Homo sapiens: one gene and its partners. The protein of the gene in region 3 purifies or fractionates together with the protein of the main gene of each other region. This does not show direct contact. Each region holds a gene or a part of one and is shown on either strand. Other genes may lie near its edges. The genes, in order: ERAP1, TUBGCP2 and ALK.

The links.
Region 1: the proteins of ALK (region 3) and ERAP1 purify together in Homo sapiens (affinity purification with mass spectrometry; one large-scale study listed by BioGRID and IntAct). This does not show direct contact.
Region 2: the proteins of ALK (region 3) and TUBGCP2 purify together in Homo sapiens (affinity purification with mass spectrometry, with the first as the bait; one large-scale study listed by BioGRID). This does not show direct contact.

What each region holds. Positions count from the first base shown.
Region 1 is NC_000005.10:96,790,865-96,794,516, reverse strand, and holds part of ERAP1 (endoplasmic reticulum aminopeptidase 1 isoform b precursor), read left to right. Parts: intron 1-470; exon of another isoform or gene 471-530; intron 531-559; coding exon 560-714; intron 715-1,003; coding exon 1,004-1,117; intron 1,118-2,324; coding exon 2,325-2,456; intron 2,457-3,652. UniProt on the Homo sapiens protein: Aminopeptidase that plays a central role in peptide trimming, a step required for the generation of most HLA class I-binding peptides.
Region 2 is NC_000010.11:133,295,334-133,298,985, forward strand, and holds part of TUBGCP2 (gamma-tubulin complex component 2), read right to left. Parts: intron 2,779-3,652; coding exon 2,619-2,778; intron 2,072-2,618; coding exon of another isoform or gene 1,988-2,071; intron 1-1,987. UniProt on the Homo sapiens protein: Component of the gamma-tubulin ring complex (gTuRC) which mediates microtubule nucleation.
Region 3 is NC_000002.12:29,915,013-29,918,664, reverse strand, and holds part of ALK (ALK tyrosine kinase receptor isoform 1 precursor), read left to right. Parts: intron 1-3,652. UniProt on the Homo sapiens protein: Neuronal receptor tyrosine kinase that is essentially and transiently expressed in specific regions of the central and peripheral nervous systems and plays an important role in the genesis and differentiation of the nervous system.

The DNA of each region.
Region 1 (3,652 bases), on a different chromosome or scaffold from region 3:
TAGAAATGGAGTCAAGAGGCCTGAAAAGGCGGGCACGGTGGCTCATGTCTTGTAATCTCAGCACTTTGGGAGGCCCAGGCAGGTGGATTACTTGAGCCCAGGAGTTTGAGGCCAGCCTGGGCAACATGGCAAAACCCTGTTTCCACAAAAGTACAAAAATATTAGCTGAGTGTGGAGGTGCACTCTTGTAGTCCCAGCTACTTGCAAGGCTGAGATGGGAGGATCACCTGAGCTTGGGAGGTTGAGGCTGCAGTGAGGTGTAATTATACCACTGCAAATGCACTCCAGTATGGGTGACAGAGTGGGACCTTGTTTCCAAAAAAAAAAAAAAAAAAAAAAAAAAAAGGCCTGAGATGCAAGTCTGACTTTGCCACATTTATAGCAAAGTGATGCTGAGTCACTAAGCCTCTTTTTCTCCATTGTGAAAGGTTCTTCCAGTCTAGAGCTCCATGATTATGCACGGGCAGCTGGTTCAAACACCTATCCATTCTGAAGATTAGTGTTTGGGAGAATGTATAGCTTAGAGACTGGTAATGTATTTTATTACTTCCTTCCCAAGATCTTGCTGCTATTCCCGACTTTCAGTCTGGTGCTATGGAAAACTGGGGACTGACAACATATAGAGAATCTGCTCTGTTGTTTGATGCAGAAAAGTCTTCTGCATCAAGTAAGCTTGGCATCACAATGACTGTGGCCCATGAACTGGCTCACCAGGTATAAGCTCATTCACACTTTTAATAAAGTATAAACTACATTTATATTGCTTCTATGGGACATATAAGGCTATTTATATAATTTTTACTTTGTCTTTTTTTAATAGGAAAAATTGTTTCTCCAAAGCATTCGTTTTTATGTCTTATAATGCATGTTGAACTTTTTTTATTTTTACCTTGATTAAATATTGGTCCTGTAAATATATGTTAACATTCATAAACTTATATTGGACATCTAAAATATACTTCTTTCTGAGTGTCTTTGTTTATGGCTTATGTTGTGCTTTTAGTGGTTTGGGAACCTGGTCACTATGGAATGGTGGAATGATCTTTGGCTAAATGAAGGATTTGCCAAATTTATGGAGTTTGTGTCTGTCAGTGTGACCCATCCTGAACTGAAAGTTGTAAGTAGTTATTTATCCTTCACATTTGAGGTTAATTTGTTGTTTTGTTCAATATTGCTGGAAAATATTCACTAATCTTTGATTATAGAACTTATAAAAATATTTCACTGATAACTTCCTTGACAGTTTAGATATGAATCGTGTTGCAAAAATGCTAGTGAACTTTCAAGATATACCACAAAGACTTATTTACAAACTCAGTTGTGAATCTATGATTGTTTGTAAATTGTCCGATTTTATATTTCTTAATATCAAAGAAATAGAAATAATGGCAGCCTAAATGTTCCATTTCATTTTCCCAACCTTCAGGTTGCTCATTGCAGAATTATTAGGTACAGATTACTGATATCTCAATAGGACCCTACTTGCCAAATCAAATGAGTTATACTTAAGGTAACTGCACATTTGATTGTATAACAACCTAGGCTTCTGGATCACAAATTTATTGCTTTGGAACTGCTATATGGTTTATTTTTTAAATCACCACATTTAACTTAAGAAAATCACATATAGCAAAATTAAACTTATGTAAAAATTTTTTTATCCTACTCCAATGATTCTTTTCATTTGTAAATATTTATTCCTATTTTCATCTGCCTGTATACATTATTTAAAATATACATTTGTGAATATTTATTACTGCCTATTTTCATCTGCCTGTGTACATAATTAGAAAGTACACATCAATATTGCATTATAATCCTAAATATTTTCTTATGTTTCTACATGATCTTTAGTAATAAAAATGATTATGGATACATATTGTCCTGTTGAGCTAATGTGCTCTAATAAAGCTGGTTAAGGTTCTCCATTTATTTTCATTATGTTTTTAAAGGTAAGTATCTTTGCTCTAAAACAGTACAGACAATGATTGGAAATGTTGAAATTACTATACAGTTAATTTCTTGTTGTGTTGCTGTTTGGCTATAGGCATAATTGTTTCGTTTTTAGATTAATACGAAATTTTCTTTATTCTAAAGGACTTAAGATGAACAAAATCTATAATGTTTAACTAAAATCATTGTTTCTTGGGTAGCTTTTAGAATATATTAATTCTATTTTGTTTCATAAATATTAGGAAATATGGAATAGGTTGCCCCCAAAATGTGAAGTATGGACTTCTTGCCTCAGATAAAATGTCCCACCTTTGACATTTTTTATCTAAATGTAAATCATAGGTGATGTTTTCTTTTTTCTATCTCAATAGGGAGATTATTTCTTTGGCAAATGTTTTGACGCAATGGAGGTAGATGCTTTAAATTCCTCACACCCTGTGTCTACACCTGTGGAAAATCCTGCTCAGATCCGGGAGATGTTTGATGATGTTTCTTATGATAAGGTAAAAGTAGATTGAGTATAAGGATACAGTTTAGATACTAAAGTTATACATACTGGGGTGGAGAAGTTATAGGCAAGGTTGTGGGGTTAAACCCAGATTGAATGCCTTCTCTCTTGACACGTGCTGGCTGGAGTCAACTCTTTTAGGACTAACTTGCAGTTTGGCTCATAACCCTAAAGATTATTTTATGGGAAATTCTTCATATATTCTTTCTTGGGTTGAAAATTCATGGCTTACAGAAACTCTGCTTTTATTCATCATTCAACAAATAGGTATTGATTGAGCATCAACTTTGTACTAGACAAAAATTCCTGCCCTCGTGTAGCTTACTTTTCAAGGCCTTCAGCAATGGTTAATATTGTTGAGACGCAAATAATTGTCTTGCACAGTGTGCTTAGTAACAGAGTTGGGAATTGTTGACAACAGTTTAATGATTGGGAGATTTTATGTAAAATCCAGATTTCTAGCTTCTCTTGGGGAAGAAAAAGGAGGATTTGGCCACTGTATGTTCTTTGCAGCATAAGCTGGAGCTAAGTTGTTGTTCTCTCTTTGTAAGATCAAGGCTCTGCTTTTCCACTTTCCCTGCCATTCCCAACTGTTCTATTGTCTTCTCACCGAGGCTGAGAGTGTGTTGCCAGTTACCATTGTGCTTGGCTGTTGTTTTACCGGTAGCAAACAGAAAAGTCTTTCTTGCTTGCATGTTTCCATTGAAAGTCCAGGGGAAAAAGAATGTAAAAGAGCATTCTTCTTATCCTTGGACTACTTCCCTTATTTATATGCCCTGTCATGTGCCACTGGAGGCATTTGAGTTTGTGACTCACCATCCGTGGTAATGGGAGTGGAGGGGAAAAGAGCCCTTTACCAAGGAATACAGGGTGTCTGGGAAGACTCTTGTTCCCTTTCTCATTGTGACTCCAGCTCCATCAGCCCTCCATGCTCAAGGCTGCCTGGGCTCCCTGGACATATCCACTTTTCCTTCCCTGGCATCTACCTCTGCCTCCATCTCTAGTGCTCCACCCCTTGTTGTACTGGCCTCTCCTTAGTCCTGCCCTGGAATGGCAGTGGGAGAGCCAGGTAGTAGCTCAAGGTCCAATGTTTAATCTGCACCATTATCCCCACTCACATGTGAACAAAGGGAGTTGGCAGATGATGCTAATTTGCCCCATCGGGAGGTCTGGCTACTGATAGAAAATAAG
Region 2 (3,652 bases), on a different chromosome or scaffold from region 3:
CTACTCGGGAGGCTGAGGTGGGAGAATCACCTGAGCTTGGGAGGTCGAGGCTGCAGTGAGCTGAGATTGTGCCACTGCACTCCAGCCTAGGCAACGAAGTGAGACCCTGTCTCAAGCAAAAAAAGAGTCAGTTGCTTCACCTCCCCAATATTCAACATCCTCAGTGTCATCTCAACACCTGCGATGTCACCTGCAAATCACCACGTCCGAACGACCACCGAACACGTGGCTCCTCCGTGCCGGTGTGGGGAAAAGGCAGGACGCGGGCAGATAACACCTTCGCATGCTGCGCGGGAGCGACCAGAGGGAGGGGCACTGCGGAGGCGGCGCTGGCCAGGTGGATGCCCACACGGTGAGGAGAGCATGGCGGGAACGTGGAGTGCTGGCAGCTGCCTCGTGCTCACAAGGTCCTGATGCTTTCCAAGGCACCTGTCCTCATCACACCACTCCACAGCTGTTTTCCAGAGGACGCAGGCCCGAGGTCACACAAGGTCCCGTGGTGTGGCACTGGTCAAATCGTGGGGTGAGGAGCTAGACAGGCCCCGGCATGAACACCACAGTGAGCTCCATTCTCAAGTCTGCACAGGTGGCACAAGGGGACAGGGACAGTGCGGACAAAGGGAGGCAAGGCAGCCTCAATACCGGAGGCACCCCTGGGACCTGTGGTATGTGGCCGTGGGAGGGAGGTGGGGCGAGGCCGCCCCTTTCCTGGGATGCTGAGTGTGCTGAGGGCACCTGCACCCTGACCTGAGAGCTGGCTGCAGGGTTCACAGCCAAGTCTCACACACTTGCTGCCAATCACCGCCACGCTCAGAGCTGCCCACGGCGCCGCAGCGTTACTGGACAGTGCGTTCCTCTTTTGTACAACCCCTTCCCTGAATGGGGAAACATGGGGGGAAAGCCTGAACACCCCCTCAGTGCCTCCTGCTCCAAAAAGCCGGCTCCACTGCTGGGATCCCAGGCAGCAGGGCCCCGCGCTTCCTTCTCCGAAGTCTGCCTGGGTACCATCAGGAGCTCTCAGGTGCCCACCACTCCCCGGCTGCCTGCTGAGTACCCGCTAAGGGAGCAGCTCTCTCTCCCTAAGTCTTCACAGTTGGGTTTTCACAGTTGGATTATTACTGAAAACACTGCACAAAGCAGACTGCTTTGTTTTTTTTTTTTTGAAACAGGGTCTCGCTCTGTTGCCCAGGCTGGAGTGCAGTGGCACGATCACAGCTCACTGCAGCCTCGACCTCTCAGGCTCAAGTGATCCTCCCACCTCAGCCTCCTGAGTAGCTGGGACTACAGGTGCACGCTACCACACTCGGCTAATTTTCACATTTTTTGTAGAGACTAGTCTCGTCCTGTCGCCCAGGCTGGTCTCGAATTCCTGGGCTCAAGGAATCCACGCACCTCACCTCCCTAAGTGCTGGGATTACAGGTGTGAGCCACCATGCCTGGCCGAAGTAGACTGTTTTCCATACTTTTCATTAACTTACAGCATGGTTTTCTATACTTCTCATAACTTACAGCAGGGTTTTTCTATACTTTTCATTAACTTACAGCAGGGTTCTGTTTGCTTGGGGATGAGGAAAACAGGTGGATTTCACGTCACCGTTCTCCAGGGTTTCCGGCAAAGGCAAGGGTTGGCCCCTTGGTGCCCACATTGCAGAGCCGTGAGTAGTGGGGAAGCAGACCACGCTCCATGCTGCCTCTTGAGTTTGGACTAACGGGGATGGGGCAAGATAAGCAGGTATGCTCTGTCCTTAGTTTGTGAAATCTCATTTTTCAATCTAAAAATGTACTTGACTAGGCGTGGTGGCTCATGCCTGTAATCCCAGCACTTTGTGAGGCCAAGGTGGGCAGATCACCAGAGGTCAGGAGTTCGAGACCAGTCTGGCCAACACGGCAAAACCCCGTCTCTACTAAAAATATAAAAATTAGCCAGGCGTGGTGGCGCCTGCAGTCCCAGCTACTTGGGAGGCTGAGGCAGGAGAATCGCTTCAACCTGGGAGGTGGAGGTTGCAGTGTGCCGAGATCACGCCACTGCACTTCAGCCTGGGCGACAGAGCGAGATTCCATCTCAAAAGAACTAAAAATAAATAAAAATAAAAATGTACCCATGAATTGTGACAGATGAACACATCCCAGGTCCCCAATAACAACGTCTTGAAATGACTGTGTGGTCTCACCCGCATCTTGTTTACACGAACACTACTTAAGAGGCCTCTGAGAATACTGCTGTAACAGAATCTATGGGAGTCATGAATCGCTGTTCAGAAATAAGTGCTGCACACAATTCTGATGCCTGCAGGTCTGCACCAGGGCACCAGGATGCCGGCTGGGGAGGGGCCTGCTGCAGGCTGCCCCACAGCTCTGGCAGAAGGGACAGGAGAAGAACCCTCAAGGACCCGGGTGAGCCGTTCTCTGCTGCCATCCTGGGATGGGAATATGGAGGCGGCAGCCAGTCAGCATTGAGCCTCACAACCTGAGGAAAGGCAGGCCCGGGGGAGGGCTGGGCCTGCAAAGTGTCCTGCCCAGAGGCCAGAAATAAACACATGACATACCTATCGGCAGAGCCCGGAAATCAACGCATCACGTACCTATCGGCAGAGCCCGGAAATCAACGCATCACGTACCTATCGGCAAAGCGGTGTCTGTGCTGATGCCAGCACCAATCAGGAAATCCCCGATCAGGGCAGGTCTCTCATACACCCATGCTGGGAAGATGGGGAGGTGCTGGCCTGAATTTTTTTTGTTCTGCTTGTCTCGAAGCATCTTTCTTTTAAGTTCCAGAGACTAGCAAGGACATTTTAAAAAACAAAACCAGAAAGATACACTTTAGCGCAAACACTCAACTAAAGACATGCATAGAAGCTAGCATCTACGGCAAAGATGATTACTCAATTCAACACCCACAAAGGGTCAACCACATAGAAATGAAATGCGCCTCGACATCCCTGCCTGCCACAACGTGAGGGGCTGGGGACAACAGGGCAGATGGGGAGCCCTAGCCCCTCTTCTCAGGAGTGCAGGTCCTGCAAGGGCCCCCCTGGGAAAACATGAGCACCAGCAGTGGGAACCACGGGAGAGGGTGCACCTAGGCACAGAGCCGCTGTTTCAAAGGAGGGCGCCCTGTGAACAAGCTGAATTGCTTCTTTCTGGCAGTGACTAGGTCTGAACACCACTTGATGGGTGAAGACAGGCTTCAGCAACAGACATGCATCCTTACCCTGCCGGAGAAGGGCCCCAGCGTGACAGGATGGCTCCTGACATGTGGTCAGAGAGCCTGCCCTCCTGCGCCAGTGGCCGCCAGAGGCTGATGGGGTCGGCCTGGGCTGGCCCAGCTTTCGGAAGCACTGACTCCCACTCAGGGCTGGTCAGGGACACGGGCAGATGCAAACTGTCTCTGCACGTGGCAGTAAGACCCAGTCTTCTGCCACGGCTGAGGGAGACGTGGACAGAGGCCTAGCACCATGTCCAGCACAGAACGTGCCCAGCAAGAACCGGCTGGGTCCTTGGGAGCCGCTGCACTCAACACGCACCCAGGAGGCTAGGACGCCTCAGGGACACAGCTCCAAAGGGAGTTTAAAGGTCACAAAGGCAGGAACGTGGCAGCTCTAATGAGAGAGACTGGGAGATGACTTACGTCAAAAGACCAGGGTAGGGCATA
Region 3 (3,652 bases):
GTTCCCTAGTCATTGCACAGAATACATACTAGTATGTGACCCCCAAGAAAAACAGAGTGCGGATGCACATTTCAACATTAGTGTTAGTGACACTGGCACCTAAAGTGAGCCCTTTTCATTTAGTGCTGGAATTTATATAGACCATCCTAAGAGGCACTGATGAGTTTGATAGTGCCTTCAGTGAACTGAGATGGAAGACTGATACTGTTGTTCCACCCAAGATGTTTTTGTAAAGAACAGCTGGGCTTTAATGTCATTGTGGTTTGTGTGGTTTATACATGCAACATTCTGTTTTAGTGCCCAGTGTTTTAGTAATGGATATAAAAATGACTTCTCTGGAAATGCAGATTATCTTCTAGTTTCATGCCTCTGAGCATCTGTGGAGCTTCCCCATCACCTTTTATCAAATGACCATAGAATCCAGCAGTCTGTATCAGCTGTTGTCAGATGTTGGTGACAGGCAAAAGGGCTCATTTCTACAGCCCCGAACCTGCCAACTGTAAACAGGTAGGTTGCATGAAGCTATCAGTGGGTGTCTCTGAAGAGTCACATGCTTAATTCATTTAAAGAATATACTCCACTCAAGTCTTAAATAAGGTGTTGGAGCTGCTGAGTGGGGAGGTTTATGTAGAAAGGCTGTGCTCCAAGGGCTTCTCTGCTATTGGCTGTAGGGAAGCATTGTGGGCATCCCAAGCCCTCCCTCAGTGGCCCAGTACATTTGGCAGCTGGACCAAGCCCTTATGCATCATTTGACACATCTAGCAATGCTGATTTCAGTAGGAGCCAGGATTCTGCCATTAAAAGGCAAGAAAATTTGGCCAAGCATTTTTCAGCAGGATTGGAATCAAATGATTATTGATAGGATCAAATAAGACACTAAGTGTAACTGGATGAGCTCCCCATGACCTCCAGAGAGACAGCCAGCCTATTGAAAAGCACTTCGGGCCTTGTGGTGATCATACTTGGAACAGCCTGGTCTCTCCTTTCTCTGAGGACATATGCTGTCTGCAGTTAGGCAGCTGGCCATGCAGGACTAGCCTCTCTCACATTATCATTGCCTCCCCAGCCTCATTCAGATACAGTCTCCATTGCAGACATCCCCATGGAGTAGATACACCTTGCTATACCATGTTCTGTGTTTCAGACAACATGTATCATTATGGTTCCGTTCATTTTCCCTATGAAAATTCAAGGTTAGGTTCTGACACTGGGATTGATTTTGCTATTTATCATGTTTGGAGAAATGGGTTTATTATTTTTATATAGGCTCTGATTTATAGAAAAGGCATTTAACTCTTCTATGATGTGGGCTCTTCAATTATACAGAAGGAAAGTAGGCACAGCTCAGCTTATTTTCTTCCTGTGTCTGCCCAAGTGTCTTGTCTGGAGGTACACAATGATGCTGATGGGGCTATTTGTGGGGGAGGGAAGAGCTGATTGTTCTTCCATGTTTTGTGGTGAGGGGCCTGGAGCAGCCCATTTGGCTCAGACCAAAGATAGCTTCCTAAACCTGAGCAGGACCATGACTAAAATAGTAAAAATGAAAAAGCACCAGTTAGGAGAAAGCAAAACCGTTGCATTGCTTGTGATTTGGGCTGTCTGAGAGGACAGAAAGATGTCTGAGAGGCCTTATAATGCATGAAATGCTAATGGTTTTTCCTTGTGGGTTACTGTGAATTCAGAAATAGGATCGGCATTTCAAGTCTGAGGCAGATCCCAAATTCACCCATTCATGGAGAAGAGGTGAAGAGGCAGTTTCTGGGACTGTATTAATGGTTCTGGCCTCTCCCAGGACAGCCCAAATCATAGAAAAGATGTCTGTCTGCAAGGCTGGCATGTTGCCCACAGCTCCAGTTTGTATCCTGGCTTACAGGTGTTTTGAGATCTGTTTCTGCTGTCACCCAGGCAGAGGGCTAGGGGATGATGACTCATGGGATAGGAGGCCTATTTCCCTGTAAGCACTCCCTCCCCACCCAGGAAAGTGGATACATGACTTTGGATTTTACATGTACTATGGAGAGGCCTGAGCAATTTAGAGATGTATGCAATGCAATATATCTGACCTTTGAACTCCCATATCTGTCAGTCCCTTCCCATTTCATTTCTGGAGTGGGCAGAGAGAGCAAAGGAGGATGGAGAGGAAATTGGAGCTCCCAGAAGGGATATCAGTTATTGGAGGTGAATTGGGAGAATTGGAACTAGTCCAGAGAAGAGCAGAGAGCTGATTTAACAGTTGAAGGGACTGATTTACAATGAAAGATGAAAAGAATTAAATATATATGGCTGGGCTAAATGGCGATGAAGGGAAAGCCATGGTAACAATCTACAAATCTCTGAAGAGAGAGAGTGGCAGTGAAGGAGAGGAGTTATTTAGCGTGGCCCATGGAAGTAATTGGATCATACTTGTAGAAGCAAACTTCGGGTTGGATATCAGGGAAACCTTGTTTTCTGACATTGATATTCCTCTGACTATGGAATGGAATTCCAATGGAGTGGGGAGTCAGGTGAGATGTGGGTCAGACAAGTCCCAGCATTCCTAATTAATCAGTTCTATATTTTCACATATTGAGAAGCTACAACAGGACAGAGAGCTGGGATGCAGAATGGCAGAAGGAATCAGAACCTTTTTATGATCCAAACCCTGGAGCCTTTGGGCATTGGTGTTTTTAGAGGAAAAGAAAAGAATTGCATATACATCTTTGAAGTTGGTGAGAAGCACTTAAGAAATTGTTAATGACAAATATTTTGAAATTACTGAATTTATTCTTCCCTGCCCTCCAATTAAACATAGATTATTTCTCTGGGGTGCGATCTGTATATCCAGGGGTTTGGGAGGCACAATCACCAGAGAATTGTGTATCTAAGATACATCTATGGGTGAGGGTATATGACAAAGCATCACTGAGCAGGGCAAAAGGTGACCTGTGTCTTGAGAAGATGCCATCAGTTCTAGATTTGGTGGACTCCTACTGGCTACTTAAAAATCCCTTTAAATGTTGAGAATCTATATTGCCATTTGAAAGATGAAGTTCATCCACATCCAATTTAACATTTCAAAAATTTTTAAAAGAGAAAGAAGGTCCATGAGGGGTTTTTGTGTAAGGCATGGGAGGAGAGTGTGATTATTAATAAAAATGGGTATCTAGGCTGGCCGCAGTGGCTCATGCCTGTAATCCCAGCATTTTGGGAGGCCGAGGAGGGCAGATCACTTGAGGTCAGGAGTTCGAGATCAGCCTGGCCAACATGGTGAAACCCTGTCTCTACTAAAAATAAAAAAATTAGCCAGGCATTGTGGCATGCGCCTTAGTTCCAGCTACTCAGGAGAGTTGCTTGAACCTGGGAGTTGGAGGTTTCAGTGAGCTGAGATTGTGCCACCTCACTTCAGCCTGGGCAACAGAGTGAGAAAGGAATATCTATAAGGAAGTTGGTCTGCTGAAAATCAGGAGGAACTGGCCTGAAGGTGGGAGAAGAAAAGAATGAGAGTTGATCAGCAGAAGTCTCAGTGCCCTGCCACTCAGGATCACTGCCTGGCAACCTCACAACATGGAAATTTTTCCAGTCTGACCTGTAAAGGAAATTTTGCCTTTCTTTATAATCATTATTAGTGTCCTGTTATGGTTATTTGGAACTTTACAATTTATAAAGCATGTTC